Regions from separate parts of the Homo sapiens genome. Here region 2 is linked to region 1. Evidence: fine-mapped expression QTL. A gene starts in region 1. The other region holds a variant in brackets. All regions are shown on one strand. Distances are between the middles of the regions. Region 1 holds the start of ZC2HC1A (zinc finger C2HC-type containing 1A). Region 2 overlaps ZC2HC1A (zinc finger C2HC-type containing 1A).

The links.
Region 2: its variant is fine-mapped to the expression of ZC2HC1A in Th2 cells (Schmiedel 2018, PIP 0.93).

What each region holds. Positions count from the first base shown.
Region 1 is chr8:78,663,660-78,667,934 of GRCh38, forward strand. It overlaps ZC2HC1A (zinc finger C2HC-type containing 1A), which reads left to right and starts at 2,430. Exons shown (of 9, transcript NM_016010.3): 1 at 2,430-2,505. The coding sequence starts at 2,490. It overlaps LOC105375911 (a long non-coding RNA gene), which reads right to left and starts at 2,320. Exons shown (of 4, transcript XR_007060972.1): 1 at 1,346-2,320. RefSeq lists enhancers at 1,553-2,061, 2,062-2,569, 2,534-2,583 and a silencer at 2,244-2,463.
Region 2 is chr8:78,693,541-78,697,815 of GRCh38, forward strand. It overlaps ZC2HC1A (zinc finger C2HC-type containing 1A), which reads left to right. Exons shown (of 9, transcript NM_016010.3): 6 at 3,867-3,966. It also overlaps a transcript of IL7 not described here. Among named protein-coding and RNA genes, the nearest start is that of ZC2HC1A, 30 kb to the left of the region's middle. The variant A/C (reference allele first, on the strand shown) is at 2,118.

The sequences.
Region 1 (4,275 bases):
AGTCAGAAACATCTCTGAAAGTTTGTTTTCCTTTTTGTATGATAAGGAGGTCAGAAGATCTCGAATTCTTATTGATCTATAAATGTTATTTTCAGTTAACAAGATCACATGGCAGGTAGAAAAATTATGTACAGGTAAGTGCTTAAAAACATGAGAAGAAGCTGAGTTTCATTCATTTGAGTAACTGGCTAGTGATAAAATGGACTTGAAGCATAGAAGGTACTCAACAAACATTTGTTGAATGAATGCATGCCGAAAAATGGATTAGACTGGAGAGGAAGTAATGTCATGATACAGTGCCAAGACAAGACTCTCAGGCTAGGTATGTAGGCGGCAGAGGAAAGAACTTATTGAAGGCAGATAGGAAGAAGTCCTCTTTACTCAGGGGTCAGAATCAGGGAAAAGCTGCAGGAGCCAGGGTAGCTGTAGCGTAAAAGTTATGAAGAGACCAAAAGCATAAAAGTTATGAAGATACCTGTAGGGAAGACTAGCAATCATGTTTTAGAGAATTAAGATTCACAATAGAAATGCCTACTCAAATATATGTTAAACAACATGTCTGAACGCTTGGGTTTACACTTGAGGCAGCTATAATAAAAGGCAAGGCAAGGAAAGGGAGTGAGGAGCCCAATCAAATCACCATAGGCTTTAGAATTTAACAGACAAGAGTGTAGCCAAGCTCTACCATCCACTAATAATACAAATATTGACAAAATATTAATTGCTCTGAGACATCTAGAAAATGAACATTTTAATTCTGATAAATGAAGATTGTAGTATCTACTTTGTAGATTTCTTTTGAAGATTTGTGAATATATGAAAATGGCCTAAAACATGCCTCACATGATTTATTCTTTAATGCTATTTTTATTATTTTTAATGTTACTGTAGATTTTATGTCGAATAAGGTATCAGCCAACTCAATATTCGTCTTGCCTTCAGTGAAAGAACTTGTAATTTGTAAAATAATGGCTTCCTTATTTTTGTATTTTCTTCTGTGTGCTTTTTTTTCTCCTTAATGCTCTTTTAAAAGGCCTTCCCTCCCAACCAAAAATTCTACCTTTGCCTTAGTAGCACTAAGGAAGAAAAAGGACCTTTCCGCAGCACCCAGTCTAGAGTAGCTTATTGCCTGCAAGGCTATGGGTTGGCCAAGGAGGCCCAGGATCTCAGAGAAGCAGAAGAGCCAGGGGAACCAGGGAAGGGCGGAGGGAGTCATTGAGGCATGGTTGAAGTGGTCTTTACATGGCTCCACACAACAGATGGACTCTACCACATTCAAATGCACTTGGAGCACCTTCTCAGTAAGAGATGATGCCCCCTCAAGTGTTTGCTTGTTTAAACATACCTTCATGTGAGTGGAGAGTAGGAGGAATCCTGCTTCCTGAAGGTAACTGATTTCATAGTAGATGAAGTTAGATATGAAGTTAAACTCTTCAATTAAACAGATTAACAATAACATTAATCCGAGGTTTGTTATGGACAACACATTAATACTGGTAACTTGCCAGTAGATACGCTATAGTCAGCAAACAGTACAGCTTGTTTACGATTGCTAAATCAAATTTTCAAAGAAATGTAGTTCTGGTAATTGTAAGCAAAACCGTTAAAATGGTCTGAGTTAGTTTTGAAGTTACTTTCATCTTCAGGAGGTTTTGAACTCTGTTAGAGACGGGCGGGCCTCATTCTGTCAGGTTGTAGGTTAATTCCCCAACTCAAACTTCCCCGATCAAACATTGTCAGGCCAGGCGACTGTTTTGGTTTATGGATGATAAAGTATAGGGCCAAGGTAGGCCAAGAGTAGAAGACAGAGGGAGGGCTGGGTTTCACTTCTAATTTTTGGCCCAAGCTTTCATGGTGAGGAAACTGTTTTCAAGGGCTTAGAGCAATCGCAGTTCCACAATCGCAGATAGAAAGTATGATTTCTCTGGAAAAAAAGTGTCTTAACCTATGAAGCTGTGTGTGAAGATCAAGTGTAGGGGATACGCTGAGGTCAAGTCATGCGACCAAAGACCGGAAAACGGAGATTGCTGCATGCAAGCGTGCTGGGCGTTTGTTTGGTTTGCTTGCCTGCTTAAAGTATCCACTGGGAGGGATGGCGGCTAGAAGTCAGAGGCATTGACTGATTGAGGAACTGGTGAAGCGGAGCCCATGAGGTGCTGAGGTACTCTAAATAGGAGGATAAGGTATGAGGCAAAACAAGGCTGGAGTCAAACAAAGGCGCCGTTGCATCGCAGATTGCAACCTGAAGCGGCTCCCGGCTCCCTGGAGAGTAACCCGGAGAGACGGACAGGGGTGGCAGCCAGGAGGAGACCGCAGGAACCTCGCCTCCGCCGCGGCCCCGCCCCCACGGATCCCCGCCCCCGCAGTTGCGGAACCAATGGGAGCTCGGAATGTTAGCGGGTGGGAGGTGCGGCTGGGTTGCTACAGCCAGAGCTGGGCGGTGGCGGGCGCTGCTGAAGGAGTCTCGCTGAGCTCGAGGAGGTGGCGCGATGGAGGGACTGGAAGGTGAGGCGATGAAGGGATGAGGGCAGGACGGCTAGAGCGGGCCCGAAACAGCTGGGGACCCTGGACACCAGTAGCAGGAAGGCGAGGGCTGGTTCGGTGCGGCGGACCTCGCCGCGTCCCGCCGCGCCTCCGGAGGCTGGGGCCGAAGGGAACCGGACAGTCCCCGATGCGGTGGAGCTAACGCTACCAGGCTGCCCCGCCTCAGACGGTCTTCAACTGGGCTTTCCCGCCCGGAGCCAGATCCTGCCCCTGGCAAGACGCCTGCACGTCTCTTCCTACCATTTTCTGATCTTGCTTGACTCCTGAGTGCCCTTTTAGTGATCCCAGTCTCTGGCCAGATTTTGTTTTCCTTGTACTGGACTCTCTCCATTATTGTCCACGGCCTTAACACCAACAGGCCACTTTGTGCTGCAGCCCCGGGGTGTGTCTCCAGCCTCGAGCTCCTGACATTCCTTGGCCGATTTCCCTAGGTAACCGGCTTTTTACATTTCGACAGCATCTTCTGTCGGAGGGATGTCAGAGCATCTCCTAAGGAAGTGTCACTGGCCAGCTTTAGAGCCGGTACAATAGATTACCCGGAGGATTTGATGACTTATTCACGGCCGCTGTGTGAGGAAGAGCCTGTATTGGTTCCTTATCTTTGGGTTTATCTTTGTACTGTAACCATGACTCCAGATTTTGCTTTGTTCCCAGTTCTTTCACTTTTTCTCTATTCTGTTTACCCATTTTATCCTGTGTAATGAAAGCATTCACCTAAAAACAAAGGAAGGACAAAAACCACAATAACTAGCATTGGCAACAACAGTTTCAAGATTTTTTAATTTGTTATGATGAAGAACAAACCTTCAGAATTGAAAGATCCTATTGTCTTGATTTAGCTCCTTTCCCCCGTCTCCTAGTTTACACGGATTCAGTTGGAATTAAGAATGAGCAGAAGCTTTTGAGTCTTGTGTATTGTTGCATGCCAGGGAGTAAAATATTCTACATTGTGTGATGAAGTGCAAAGTGGTAGCCGGTAACTTTTTCAGTCACCTATTCACCAAAAAGCAGATGTAATAACATGAGTAGAAGTTTATTTCGTGCTTTTGCTCTGATAAATGATTCTGATAATTTTCCGTTTGTGGACAGCTGCAGTATGCTATGGCCTAATGAAGGTCTTGTTTTTTGCTTATGTGTTTTTGGAAGATAATTCAAGTTTCCATGAAATAAGGAATTGTAATGATAGTACAGTATATTTTACTTTCAAGATACTTTTGTATCTTGGTGGGATTAAAGCATGGGTTATGGAATTCTCATGAGATTATCATATATAATATGATAAGGTTTTATTACATATTATCTATAAAGTGTTTTGAACAGTTTGCAGATTTTTATTATTTTATTCAACATTTGTTATTAAGACAAAGATCATCATCTGATTTTTCACTTATGTATCCTAGGCACCTAAAACAATGTCTGACACAAAGTAGGTACTCAATAAATATTTGTTGTTAAATAAATGTCTATTATGGGCATCTTTTTAGGTTCTAGGTTGCAGCAAAGAATAAAAATGATAAAGCTTTACTCTCATCGAACCTACATTTTAGTGGACCTTACATTTTAACAGTGCTAAGATATTACTATTGAAACCTTACTACGAATGTTTTTAAAATATAATGGAAACCTATTATGACACTCAGTTGCATAGGTGGACAAAGGTAGGATTCTGTATTTATAGGCATATTTTATGGGTCCAGCTTATGATGTTATAGGGCCCAGCTTATGATGTTA
Region 2 (4,275 bases), 30 kb after region 1:
TGTCTGTTCATATCCTTTGCCCACTTTTTGATGGGGTTGTTTGTTTTTTTCTTGTAAATTTGTTGGAGTTCATTGTAGATTCTGGATATTAGCCCTTTGTCAGATGAGTAGATTGCAAAAATTTTCTCCCATTCTGTAGGTTGCCTGTTCGCTCTGATGGTAGTTTCTTCTGCTGTGCAGAAGCTCTTTAGTTGAATTAGATCCCATTTGTCAATTTTGGCTTTTGTTGCCATTGCTTTTGGTGTTTTAGACATGAAGTCCTTGCCCATGCCTGTGTCCTGAATGGTATTGCCTAGGTTTTCTTCTAGGGTTTTTATAGTTTTAGGTCTAACACTTAAGTCTTTAATCCATCTTGAATTAATTTTTGTGTAAGGTATAAGGAAGGGATCCAGTTTCAGCTTTCTACATATGGCTAGCCAGTTTTCCCAGCACCATTTATTAAATAGGGAATCCTTTCCACATTTCTTGTTTTTGTCAGGTTTGTCAAAGATCAGATAGTTGTAGATGTGTGACATTATTTCTGAGTGCTCAGTTCTGTTCCATTGGTCTATATCTCTGTTTTGTGTTTTTAATTTCTTGCAGTTGGCTGGCTATTTTTCTAATTTCCTATTTTTTATAGTTTGCAATTTTCCATTAATATTTTCATAGTTGTCTGCTATTTCTTTAAATGTAGTACTCATAGTTGTTTGTAATGTGTGTCTGATAATTATAGCAATATCAAGTGACTTGTATGGATATGTTCCTTGTTTTTTTTTTTTTCTCATTCAGTTTCCTTATATCCTTATTTCCCTGATTATTATTGACCTTTGCTGCTTGTTACAAGTAAAACGGTATTCATGATTATCATTCATGCCTTCTTCCAGAGAAGATGTGTGCTGTGCTTATTCCTTTTAGGTATCTATGAGTCTTATCAGTCTGGAAACATTTGAAATTAAATTATTGGCTTAGTTTGCTTGACCAGCCTAATAATGCAAATTTATACAGCAAATCCATGTGATGTTCAGGTCGTTATTACAATTCCATATGGTTTGGCCTGGAAATTTCTTTTCCTCTCATTTGACATTCAGTGCTTTTACAATGATTTTTTATTCTTTCCTGAGCATTTTTAGTTGTTAATTGAAAGGTTGGTCTAAATAGTAAGTTCTACCATTTTGTCAGAAATGGATGTCCTACAAGTTCTTTAGACTTTTTCCAATTTCATTAGTCATTAGTCTTTGTATAAATATTTTTGTAAGGAAATGTATGAGATTTGTGAGCAGCATAAAAACACAAAATAATAATTACCAAATAATAATGAATGAAAGAAATACGTTGAATGTAATTGTATAAAATCATTTCATTCTCCTGGTCATTAAAATGGATTTATACAAAATTGTTGGTTGATAGAGTCATTCTGAAAGTCTTCATAATAGCACACAAAACCGTTGATTGATAGAGTCATTCTGAAAGTCTTTATATACCAGTAGACTTTCAGCTTGATGTTGTAGAATAGATAGAATATAGCTCAGAAAGGAAGGAGTCAGATTATCTAGGTCAGGGAAAACAGCAAGATACCGAGGGGGAGGTGAATAATGTTTTAAACAAGCAGTTTTCGGAAAGGAAACTAACCTGACTAGTTCTTGTCTAAAGTAATGGGAAATATTATAGGATATAAGTAAGGTTGTTCTAGGTTCTGAATAGCTCAGAAAACTCAACAATAAAATTTAGTAAAATAGTGGGAAGTCTTATATAGAGAGGGAGAAAGCAAAACATTTTTTGGAGACATGTTCTGCCTAAGTATTTGGAAGCCATTAAGTTGTTAATAATTCCTATTATATACATAAAAATCTTTAGTCTCCATTATGTAATGCTACCAGGAACCTTTCTGCCTGTTTCCTGCCTAAAGACTTGACCTCTCAATATGTAATAGGCCACATCAGCGCACTTTGTTTATGCTAATCATTTTGCTCTTTTTTGATTGTACAGTTTGAGTGGGTCAGCAGTCTTGTTTCCTAATCTGATTTTATTAACTCTGTTTTTATAGACATAACTCTCGTAGTTTAACAAATTTTTGTTAGAGCTTGTTTTCCCTATTGCTATAATTTTAAGTCTTTTCTAATGTCTGTCTTTCTCTCTCT[A/C]TATATATATAGTGGCCCAGATGCCCTTTTAAACCAGAAGCACCTCTAAGGTTTTAAAAAATCAGTATCATTATATGGTTCATCTCCCAAAGTCTCATAGACATTTGTTAATTTGAAAGACATTTACTGAAGGTTTTGGTTTTCTATTTTTCAGGTGCTGGCATAATACTGCAAAACGTGAATGCTACTTTTTTTGTGTGACCGTTTATCAAGATTTAACTTTTTAAAAATTCACATACAGAGTTAGAAGGATATAATGTTTGACTTCAAAATTGGTTTTAGCTAGCTATTTTTGGTAGTAGTGCATCTTAAATTTTATATTGATTATTGGTTATAAAATATGATTTGATTTTTGAAAATGATAATTTAAAACCAATTTTTCTTTCTTTTTTTTTTGAGACGGAGTCTTGCTCTGTTGCCAGGCTAGAGTGCAGTGGCGTGATCTCGGCTCACTGCAAGCTCCGCCTCCTGGGTTCACGCCATTCTCCTGCCTCAGCCTCCTGAGTAGCTGGGACTACAGGCGCCCGCTACCACGCCCGGCTAATTTTTTGTATTTTTAGTAGAGACGGGGTTTCACTGTGTTAGCCAGGATGGTCTCGATCTCCTGACCTTGTGATCCACCTGCCTCGGCCTTCCAAAGTGCTGGGATTACAGGCATGAGCCACCGTGCCCAGCCCGTTAAAACCAATTTTTCACATGAAATCTTGATACCGTATTGGGCTACATTCCAAGCACATATGCAAGTATGATTTTCACCTTATGGTTGAAGCATTGGGCTAGAACCAGCATGAGTCTAAATTCCTGCTCTGCTGTGAAGTTGGGGCATAACCCTGGGCAAGTTCATTTCTTGCTATTGAAGCAGGTGATCAGTAAGATACTTTTATTGTCAGGTAACTGAGCAAAATTTGGCTCAAAAAGAGAAAGTAAAATAAAATTAATAAAGATGTCTCTTTAGAGGAGTAGAGAAATATAAAAATCCAAGATAAGCTGAAAGATCTTAGGTCAATGCATACTCCATTAATTTAAGATGGTCTGGTGAGGATCGTGAAGCCAGAATTAGCTCTTTCTCTTCATATCAGGGAAATCCATAATGCAGCTGTTGTAAAACTTGTTCAGGTCCTAGGTCATCTTACGGTTTTTATCAGTAGGAAATATGGCTGAATTATATATATGGAATATAAAAACACATCCAGGAACATATAAAAATCTTGACCTTTAAAGCTGCACCATAGCTGTTTCTAAGTTTTTCTACTAATGTTTGTTTGGTGTTTAAAATCTTAACTTTGAGGAAGTTTTTTCCGTTAGACCTTTTTTTCTTTTTCCTGTGAACTGAAAAAGTTGCTGTTAGTTTGTTTTAGCAGTGGAGCATCTGAGAGGGAGTCTAGTTTGGAAAACCTTTGAGGTGATATATTTTAATCTATACTTCCTCAATTTGTATAATTCAGTAGAAAAGACTGTTCATTTAAGGGAATGTGAGCTGTTTCTTTCCAATTATTTTTTTACTGTGGTATAATACATGTAGCATAAACTTTACCATCTTAATCGTTTTTAAGAATACAATTCAGTGTATACTTACAAGTGTTTTAATACATTAATGATGTGCAACCATCATCACCATTCATTTCCACAACTCTTTTCATCTTGTAAGGCTGAAATCCTAAACCCAAAGAATGTTAAGTTTTGAACCACTACTTTACAATCCATAATCAAAAAGTGATGTTGATTAATATTTTTTTTCCATTATTTTAGTATAAGCCACCCGCACTTAAAAAGTCAAATTCTCCTGGAACTGCATCATCAGGATCTTCACGATTACCGCAGCCAAGTGGCGCTGGCAAAACTGTTGTAGGTAATGATAGCCGAAAAGCAACTTGATTTGTTTTTGAAACCATGTTGGCAGAGCAGGAAATAAAGATAGTGGTCTATTCTGGAATATTAAGATAGATTTATAATTAAGAAGAGATGTAGAAGTTAAGTAATTATTTTTTAAAATAAGATAACTTTGAGTAGTTTCTACTTTTAACCTTTTTTTTTTTTTTTTGACGGAGTCTTGCTCTGTTGCCCAGGTTTGAGTGCAGTGGTGGAATCTCAGCTCACTGCAACCTTCGCCTCCCAGGTTCAAATGATTCTCCTGCCTTAGCCTCCCGAGTAGCTGGGA